2 separate regions of the Homo sapiens genome follow, and region 1 is linked to region 2. The links come from fine-mapping of genetic effects on gene expression. A gene starts in region 2. The other region holds a variant in brackets. All regions are shown on one strand. Distances are from middle to middle.

Region 1 (4,400 bases), 77 kb after region 2:
GATATGTTAAGAAGGTTGGAAGGACGTAACTTGGTGACCACTTGGTGAGAGAGAAGTCTCACACAGGCAGTATGCAAGTGGGATCCAAAGCAAAGGGCTGTCTATCATCAGGGTATCTCTGATTTATTTCTACTCTTAGTTTTTATAAGCAAGAACTCTGGATTGTGAACCATGAGCATTCACACTTTTTTTGGTAACAAAAAACTTGTCAAGTTTTCAAGACAGATCTCAGATTACAATAGAAAAAGCTCATTTGGATATGTGCCCTTTCTCAGGGAGAAAGAGGAGCCCCTGGACCAGTGGGAGAGCAAGGTACTAAGGGATGCTATGGCACCAAAGGTCCTAAGGTAAGGATTGCATAAGAGTGTGGAGTTTTCTCAATATTAATTACATTTTCCTACACTAACTATAACTGTCCTTTTATTTTCAGGGAAACAGAGGACTAAATGGACAGGAGGTATGTTACCAGGCACATCCATTTACCTACCCATATGTTATCTAGAAATATTTTTATTTTTGAGATTATTTATCAGTAAATTATACAAATAAAGTTGTCATTGACTTTCCTTTTTTATTGCCAGCCATTTCATTTTGTTTCTTCTTCTCTTTCATTATAGGCAATACATATTATTTGTTGATAGTTTCTATTACTGAGTAACCTTTAATATTAATAACCCAGGCCCAGCCTCACAAGGAGGCTGTATGTGAAACACAAAAATAGAGTTTTTGTTTGGCATCTGACTTCTTTACACATGCACGTGATGTACTCTGTTCTAATCATATCTATCTTTTCAGGGAGAAGTTGGGGAAAATGGAATTGACGGATTAAACGGAGAACAGGTAGAGCCTTCTTGTACCATAGAGACCCTTCTGAGCTATTTACCATTATGAAAACGAGAATTCTATTAATAGCTTTCCCTTCTTGTTTTTTAGGGTGATAATGGTCTTCCTGGAAGAAAAGGAGAAAAGGGAGATGAGGGATCTCAGGTAGGGATTTGAAAAGGAAGAACATAAAAATTGTACTGGGGATTAAGGGTGTGATTAACAGAGTAGAATACTCAGTCAGCTATTGCTACAAAACTGTTTTGTGACAGTCATAAAACCTCAATCACATACAACGATGAACATTTATTTCTTATGTTTCTGAGGGGTTCAGCCGATTGAGGCTGGACATGGCTCATGTCTGTAAGGTGGCCGGGGGCTTTACTCCATCTGTCACTTACCCTCCTGGGACCAGGAGCTAGCCTAACCATGCTAGCCATGACCTTTTTATGCCCATGGCAGAAGCACAAGAAAGCAAGTGGAAACATACTAGAACTCTCAGGTCTTCTTCAGACCTAGGGTCAGAACTCTCTCAACACTTGCATCTCTTTCTGTTGGCCAAATCAATGCATATTGCCAAACTCAGAGGAAGGGAATCTTGCCCACCACAGTTGGAAGTCATTGTAGAGTTACATGGCAAAGGACACAGGAATAGGGAGAGGTGAAGAACTGGGGCCATCAATGACAAGCAACTACCATAGTAAGAATAGAAGTGGGGTGTTGACAAGGGTCAGTGGTGCCAGGCAGCACATTGAAGAGTGAATGTCCCTCATGCCCACCTAGAATAAATACCAACAGCAGCCATATTTTCATCCTCTACTTTGTCTTTAGAGTGTGAACAATTGAGTCAGAAACAACCATCTTGGGCAAAGTGCATATTCTTTCTGAATCTCAGTTGCCTTATAAAAGAAAGATAATAAGGAATACCTGGTTCATAGAATATTTGTAAAAAACAAGATGACAAGTGTGTCTGGAACACAGAGTTCACCACTGTGGCAAATAATTGAGTTCACTATTAAATTATTTATATGGTGCTTGAAACTAATTTTTTCGGTTGTTCATCTTTCCAGCTTAAAAATAGCCTTTGTAGAAAAATATTTAATTATTCACACCAGGGAGAAGAAAAGCTCTGTTTTTATTAATTTTATTAAAACTTCTTGTCTTGTTTTTCTTCTGATTTGTATTAACTTTAGGGAAGCCCAGGGAAGAGAGGGACTCCTGGTGACCGTGGAGCAAAGGGCCTGCGAGGGGATCCCGTAAGTGCACGGGCTGCAAACTGGAGTTAGG[G/A]CTTGATTCCCATCCGTACTTCTGATAGGGAGTCTCGATTTCAAGGTACTACAATAGTAACCCTGAGTTTAAAACACCACAGGCATGATTGTAACATTTTAAATTCAGGTACCTGTGCTAGATCCTCTTCATATACTGAATGAGTATGAGCAGTAAAAAGCCCTTACATGTCTTTTGCAAATGCAATTTTGTAAATACATACTCAGAATTGTTTTTGTGCTTCAAAACAATGAAGAAATTCTGGTCCACTTCATTATCTTCCAAGCACCTCAAAATACAAACACAATGACAGAAAGAAAGCCATGTCTTTTTTTTCTGTTCTTGTGTTAGTCTGTTCTCACATTGCTAATAAAGACATACCTGAGTCTGGGTAATTTATAGAGGAAAGAGGTTTAACTGACTCATAGTTCCACATGGCTGAGGTGCCCTCACAATCATGAAGAAAGAGCAAAAGGACGTCTTATATGGCAGCAGGCAAGAGAGCTTGTGCAGGGGAACTTCCATTTATAAAACCATCAGATCCCATGAGACTTACTCACTACCACAAGAACAGTATGGGGGAAACCACCCCCATGATTCAATTATTTCCACCTGGCCCCACTGTTGATATGTGGGATTATTACAATTCAAGATGAGATATGGGAGGAGACACAGCCAAACCACTATCAGTTCTCCAAGAATTTTTCTCAAGAATATCAGTCTCATTTCCTGTAACCCAGGCCAAGTAGAATTATATTAGGCAAAACTTATGACATAAAGGCACTGCCCTTGCAGGAGCACAACCCAGCTGAGTAGGCAGGACCCATGTTAAAGAAAAAAAAAAAGATACCAATATATAGGGAATATGCCAAGTCCGATAGAACATCAGTACTATAGGATTTTCATCACCATACCCACACTTAAGTAAGTCTCCAAAACCTTAATGAATTAAGATTTAGCTTTGTTTTAAAATGTTTATTGAACTGTAACATACATCAGAAAAGTCCCTGAGTTATAAATACACAGCTTAATGAATGTGAATACACCTGTGTAGTCACCACCAGGTAAAGAAATAGAACATTACCAGCATCTCAGAAGCCCCCTCATGCCCACTGCAGCCACTACTCACCTTCCCCCAAGGTAATCACTATCCTGTCACTATTAATTAGTTTTATGTGTTCTAGAACTTGATATAAATGGAACCATATAAGTGTCTGCTCTTTTTTTCTGGCTTCTTTTGCTTTATACTTGTAAGATGAATCAATGTTGTGTATAACAATAGTTCATTCAATTTCGTGGCTGCATTGCATAGTATTTCATTGTGTGAATATACCATGATTTATTTGTTATACTAATGATAGGTGGGTTGCTCCCAGTTTTTGCTTTTATAAGTAGTGCTGCTATGAATATTCTTATATATGTCTTTTGATGCACTTTTTTACATATTTATATTGGGTCTATATTTTAAGAGTAGAATTTCTGGATTATAATGTGTATGGCCATACTCAGATTGTCTTTACAGTCAAATGGTTTTCAAAAGTTTGTATTTATTTATACTCCCACTAGCAATGTATGAGAACGGTATTACACACTCATCAGAATGGTTACAATTTATAAAAAGCAATACCAAGTGCTGATAAGGATGTGGGACACCTGGGAATCTCATGAGGATTTTTGTTTTCTTTAATATAACCTCTTGTATACAATGGGTTGATCAGAGAAGGAATTTGATGCAATATATATGAACATGTAAATGTTAGGCAACTGTATTTAAAAACAGAGGAATTTGCGCATGAGGAAAACATTGTTGACTAAGTGACATCTTCTGATAATGGTGTCCTGAGAATTTTCAACTTCAAAGAATCTAATTTAGAACCAAAGAACTATCCACATATAAGCACAACTTAGAAATATTAGTTCAAATACAAAGACGTTTCAGTTATCCATATATGATGACCAAAAATTCATTTGGGGCATTGCTATATAACCTCCACTGATTTTGATCAGAATTTCTCCTAAATTGTCTGCTAAAGATCGTGTGATTGTGTAACATATTTTAAAGAGTCTGAATAATGTAAAGAGCTTTCTATTTTAAAAGAAATGCTCTATGACTTCCAACTGTAAAACAACTCTGTTTTTTTACATGTGGCTTCAGTGCATTACTATTTCAGGAAAAATTGGGGATAAATAAATAGAACACACATGATCAGTTTATTCTTAGGAAAGCATGTAAATGATGCTAATTTTTGAAACCCTAAGTTTATTCAGATAGGATTTATGATCACATGGAAGTGCATTTGGCTGTTTGGAAT
Region 2 (4,400 bases):
CACTGGCTACTTGCCCATTATTTCTCTGGTCCAGAAATCACGGGTTGCACAATGGGAAAAACTGGAGTCACTTCAGGCAACCACCTGCATTTATAAAACCCAAGGAACCCTCTTCTTTCCCTGTCTTTTTGCTTTAGGCTGGGTAAAAGGAAGCCTAGTTCTTGGGGTGCTTATCCAAGTATGATCCAGTTGTGAAAACTGGTTTGGACATCAGAAGGTCCAGGGCATCAGATAGAGTGTTTTTAGATGTCTCAGAACAATATGTCAAAAGGATTCAGCTGGTTATTAAGGCAGTGCTGCCAAACCTTCCCATTGGACTGACATGATTATTTGTCCTGGCGGGGCCATGGGTCACAAGCTCTTGACTTCCAGAAGCCTTTCTGTCAGACTAGATTTCCTATAGGGCTATCAAAGAATAAGCCTTGCTTGCATGTATGGCACACTTAAAATTTTTTTAGTTGACAGATAATATTTGTGTGTGTTTATGGGGCACTTATGATATTTTAATTCATGCATAGAATGTATAATGATCAAGTCAGGGTATTTAGTATATCTATCACCTCAAGCATTTTATCATTTCTTTGTGGTAGGGACTTTCAAATCTTCTCTTCTGGCTATTTTAAAATATACACTTTCAAAAGTAGTTTTGGGTGGGGGACTGGCAAATTGCTAGGAACCCTGCCACCCAGAATTCACATCTGCCTCTTCAGTAGTGACCCTGGAATGAGAAAAGGATACTTGTGTTAAGTGCATTTTTAAAAAGAATGTGAAAATTTGAATTACTTGTTTTAGATAAAAGCAATAATAATTTGAGACGTTCTAATGTTCATTCTTTTGTTGTTGTTGTTGTTGTTCCAGTGTTCTCCCAGCTTTCCTTGTGCAAAGCCAAGGAGTCCATGGAGGAATCACCATATTGAAGACACCTGTCCTGGTGCTGTTCCACCAAGTCTCTGGACCAGAACATGAAGCCTCATGATCCAGGACACTCAACGAGGGACACTGGAAAGCATCTTTACTATTTACATTCCATTGACAAAGAGCTGTGGTTAAGGACCTGGCCAAATTTGCAGTTGATGAGTGGTCCAGTAGAGACTTGAGTCATGCCCCAGACTCCAGAGCAATCCCCACTCCTTGGTGAATAATCTGTTTTTTAACTTGTCATTTGCCAAGTTGACACATCATACTACATACGGAGTAGCTGGTAAATGCACACTCCATGGTTAGTCTGCTTGCATTCAGATCCAGTTCCACCACCTACAAGTTTACCTGTCTTTAAAATTTTCTTACCTTAGGATGACAACAAATATCAAATTTTAAAAATCACACAAACTTGGCTACTCTGGAGAAGTCAGTGCTCCCTCTCTCTTCCCTGCTGCTCTTCCATTTGCCTGAGACCCTCTTTTCCATGCTTTTCTGTCTAGCTCCATCTTTGGATTTCAGTTTGGACTTAATTACCTCAGAGAAGCTTCTTTTGGCCTTCCAAGGTTGAGTTGGGATCCCCTCTTCTGGGTTCCTATGGCATCATTTCCCCATTCAGCAATTGCCACACTGCTTTTTGTTTCCTTGTCTATCTCCCTAACCAAACTGTGAGCTAAGGTGTCGACTTTGCTGTTTTTTTTTTACCCCAAGCATCTGATAGTAGTGCATAGTAGGTGCTCAAATATTTGTGGAATCAACAACAACAAAAAATAGATAGATGAGTGAATGGACAGATAGCGAGAAGAGAAAAAGGTCAGTAGACAAAGAGTCAAGGATATTCTCCTTGGGACTCCTGAATTCGGACCAGAGAGTAGGGAAACTGGGGAGGTAGGGGGCGTTGAGGGTGGGATGAGGTGGTGGCTCTGGACCTTAATCTCACGGTCTTCGTTCCCACGGAAAAGGGAGGAGTTTCTACAACCCAAAGACTCTCTCTGGCTCCCTTGCTAGATCCTGCCTTCTGCCAGAAGACCCCAGAATACAGGCAAAGCCGCCAAAGAACAACAGTTCCAACGGTAGGAGCAGAGCTACTGCCTTCAGTGCGCCTCGGATCTGCACGCCCTGCCTATCTTTGGGGTACAGAGAAGGCGCGTACCATGAAAGCCCCAACTTCCCCTCTTTCTTTTCTCCCACGGTCGGGACCTTAGGGTAGGAGTTTCAAGAGGGGAGAAGCCGGTGGAGCAGTAACAGCCTTCATAATGTCTCCAGTCCCGCTTCCGTCACCTCCCTAAGGCTGCGCCCCCCTCCTGGGGGACGTGCGCTGGGCCCGGGGCCGCCGGGGCGGGGAAGGGTCGGGCCCGGGGCGGGGAGAAGCGTTTATATGTCGGCGAGGGGCGTGGGAGCTGCCACCCGCTTGCCTGCGGGACACCGGAGTCAAGAGGCTGCCCACGCCGCTGCCTGTCCGTTCCACGGTTCCGAGGTCTCCACCGTCTCCCCGCGCGCCGCAGGCGGCACCAAACTCTGCGCTCCCCGCGGTGCGCCCTGCCCGCGCAGTGCGCGTCCAGAGGAAATCCGCCCCGGGCTTTCGAAGTGCAGGGCTGGGGGCTGCATGGAAGTTTCCCCAAGGTAAGTCCAGGAGCCAACGCTGGGACAGCAAGAGCCAAAACTAGGTTTACAAGTGATCAGTAGTTGGATGGGAGGGACCGGCCAGAATAGAGGAGGCTGCATGAGAAAGACTGCGGTGGAGGGAAATAAGTGAATTTCAGAAGCTCAAAAACTCCTCCTTTGGCTTTTCTCCTCCTCCAAACAAGAGTAACTGCCCTCACCTCGTCTTTCTTTTAATTTTTCGCATCCGACTGTTGAAGAACCTACAGCACACTCTTGTCATTCTCTGCTCCCATCTCCGCGTCTCCCACCGCGCACCAGGGCGCCTCCTGAGAGGTGCGTCACCCAACACTGTGTCCTCACAGCACAGGGCCTGGCGAGTGGCATGTACAGTGGACCACTCTCGGAAACAAATGAATGGAGTTAATCAGGGTGAGTCAGGAAAAGTCACTCCCAAGCCTGTACATTCCCAGTCTGTACTTTTGTTCTTGCACTTCACACAAATTTATTAAAGAGGGTTGGACTTTTACTGCTGTCTGAGGGGAGGAAGGAAAGCAGAGAAAATGCACCCTTTTCTCAATTCCCAGAAACATTCTACTCTGAGCGGAACCCCAATTACCTGGCTCAGTATCAACCATGCAAGTAATTTTGAAGAGGAGAGGAGGCAGGCTGGAAGAGGAAAAAAAATGTTAAAACTAGGAAGTGATTTTCTTTTCTTTTTTGTCCTTTTGTGACAAGGATTTCTCATTCTCTTGTTAAAAGTCTACTCTATGGATATATTTAAAGAGGACCTTTTGCCAGTGGATGGGTGTGGGGGTGATAGGAGAGAGGGGTGGTGACGGTGATTAGGAATATCTGAGACAGTAAAAATCCTAACACTTGTGGCAGGAAGGATAACAGCAGTTTTCTGTTAAGAATTCTATAGTTACAGAATTCAGCAGTCATGTTACTTTTTCTAAACTAATCTATTTAATGAGTAGTATTTTTAATATAAAATGTTCAATGTTAAATTTATTGTTCAGTGTCTTCATAGAGGAAGTCACTTACATAAAAATCCTGAAACTTCTAAATAATGTTCTTTAAAATACACAGCCTTAATAGTTCTTGTCTTTATAAAAGAGGTTGTCAATTAATTTCTCCTTTTTTTTGAGACGGAGTTTCTCTCTTGTTGCCGGGGCTGGAGTGCAATGCGCCATCTCAGCTCATCGCAACCTCCGCCTCCCGGGTTCAAGCGATTCTCCTGCCTCAGCCTCGCGAGTAGCTGGGATTACAGGCATGAGCCACCATGCCCGGCTAATTTTGTATTTTTAGTAGAGACGGGGTTTCTCCATTTTGGTCAGGTTGGTCTCGAACTCCTGACCTTAGGTGATCCGCCCGCCTCAGCCTCCCAAAGTGCTGGGATTACAGCAATTTCTCCCTCATTTTATTCCAAAATATTAGAAGTGCAGAGGAGAGAAAAAGAAGGAGAAAAAAAATACCGTGCCTCAAAAGAAGGTGTGTTTTGGATGTTGTGCCATGTGAAATCAAATTTTATAATGTTCATGAAAGATGTTAGGTTAAGCATTCATTGGAGAATCATCTTTGGCTTTTATATTTTAGTAATTTAAAAAATTTAATTTTGCTAAATTTTTTGTGAACCAATTCTCCGGAAATACTATTGTTGAATATAAATACTTGCAATTTTCATTTTTTCCATTCCCTTCAGATAGTCTGAATTTCAGAAAGTTTCAGTATTTTGAATATTTTGCAGAAAATATTTATTTATTTGTATAGACAGTATCAAGAGCATCTAATTAAGTCACCAAATGAAGATCAGGTTGTAAAAATTATGAATAAAAATTGGTGCCTTATTTAATAATCTCTATACTTAGTACACTATA

What was found. PIP is the estimated chance that this variant, and not a neighbour inherited with it, causes the effect.
Region 1: its variant is the best candidate, but not a certain one, in a credible set for the expression of COL6A6 in lung (TOPMed, PIP 0.82).

What each region holds. Positions count from the first base shown.
Region 1 is chr3:130,592,266-130,596,665 of GRCh38, forward strand. It overlaps COL6A6 (collagen type VI alpha 6 chain), which reads left to right. Exons shown (of 37, transcript NM_001102608.3): 14 at 276-347; 15 at 431-457; 16 at 796-840; 17 at 934-987; 18 at 2,016-2,078. Among named protein-coding and RNA genes, the nearest start is that of COL6A6, 77 kb to the left of the region's middle. The variant G/A (reference allele first, on the strand shown) is at 2,110.
Region 2 is chr3:130,514,857-130,519,256 of GRCh38, forward strand. COL6A6 (collagen type VI alpha 6 chain) reads left to right here and starts at 2,321. Exons shown (of 37, transcript NM_001102608.3): 1 at 2,321-2,541.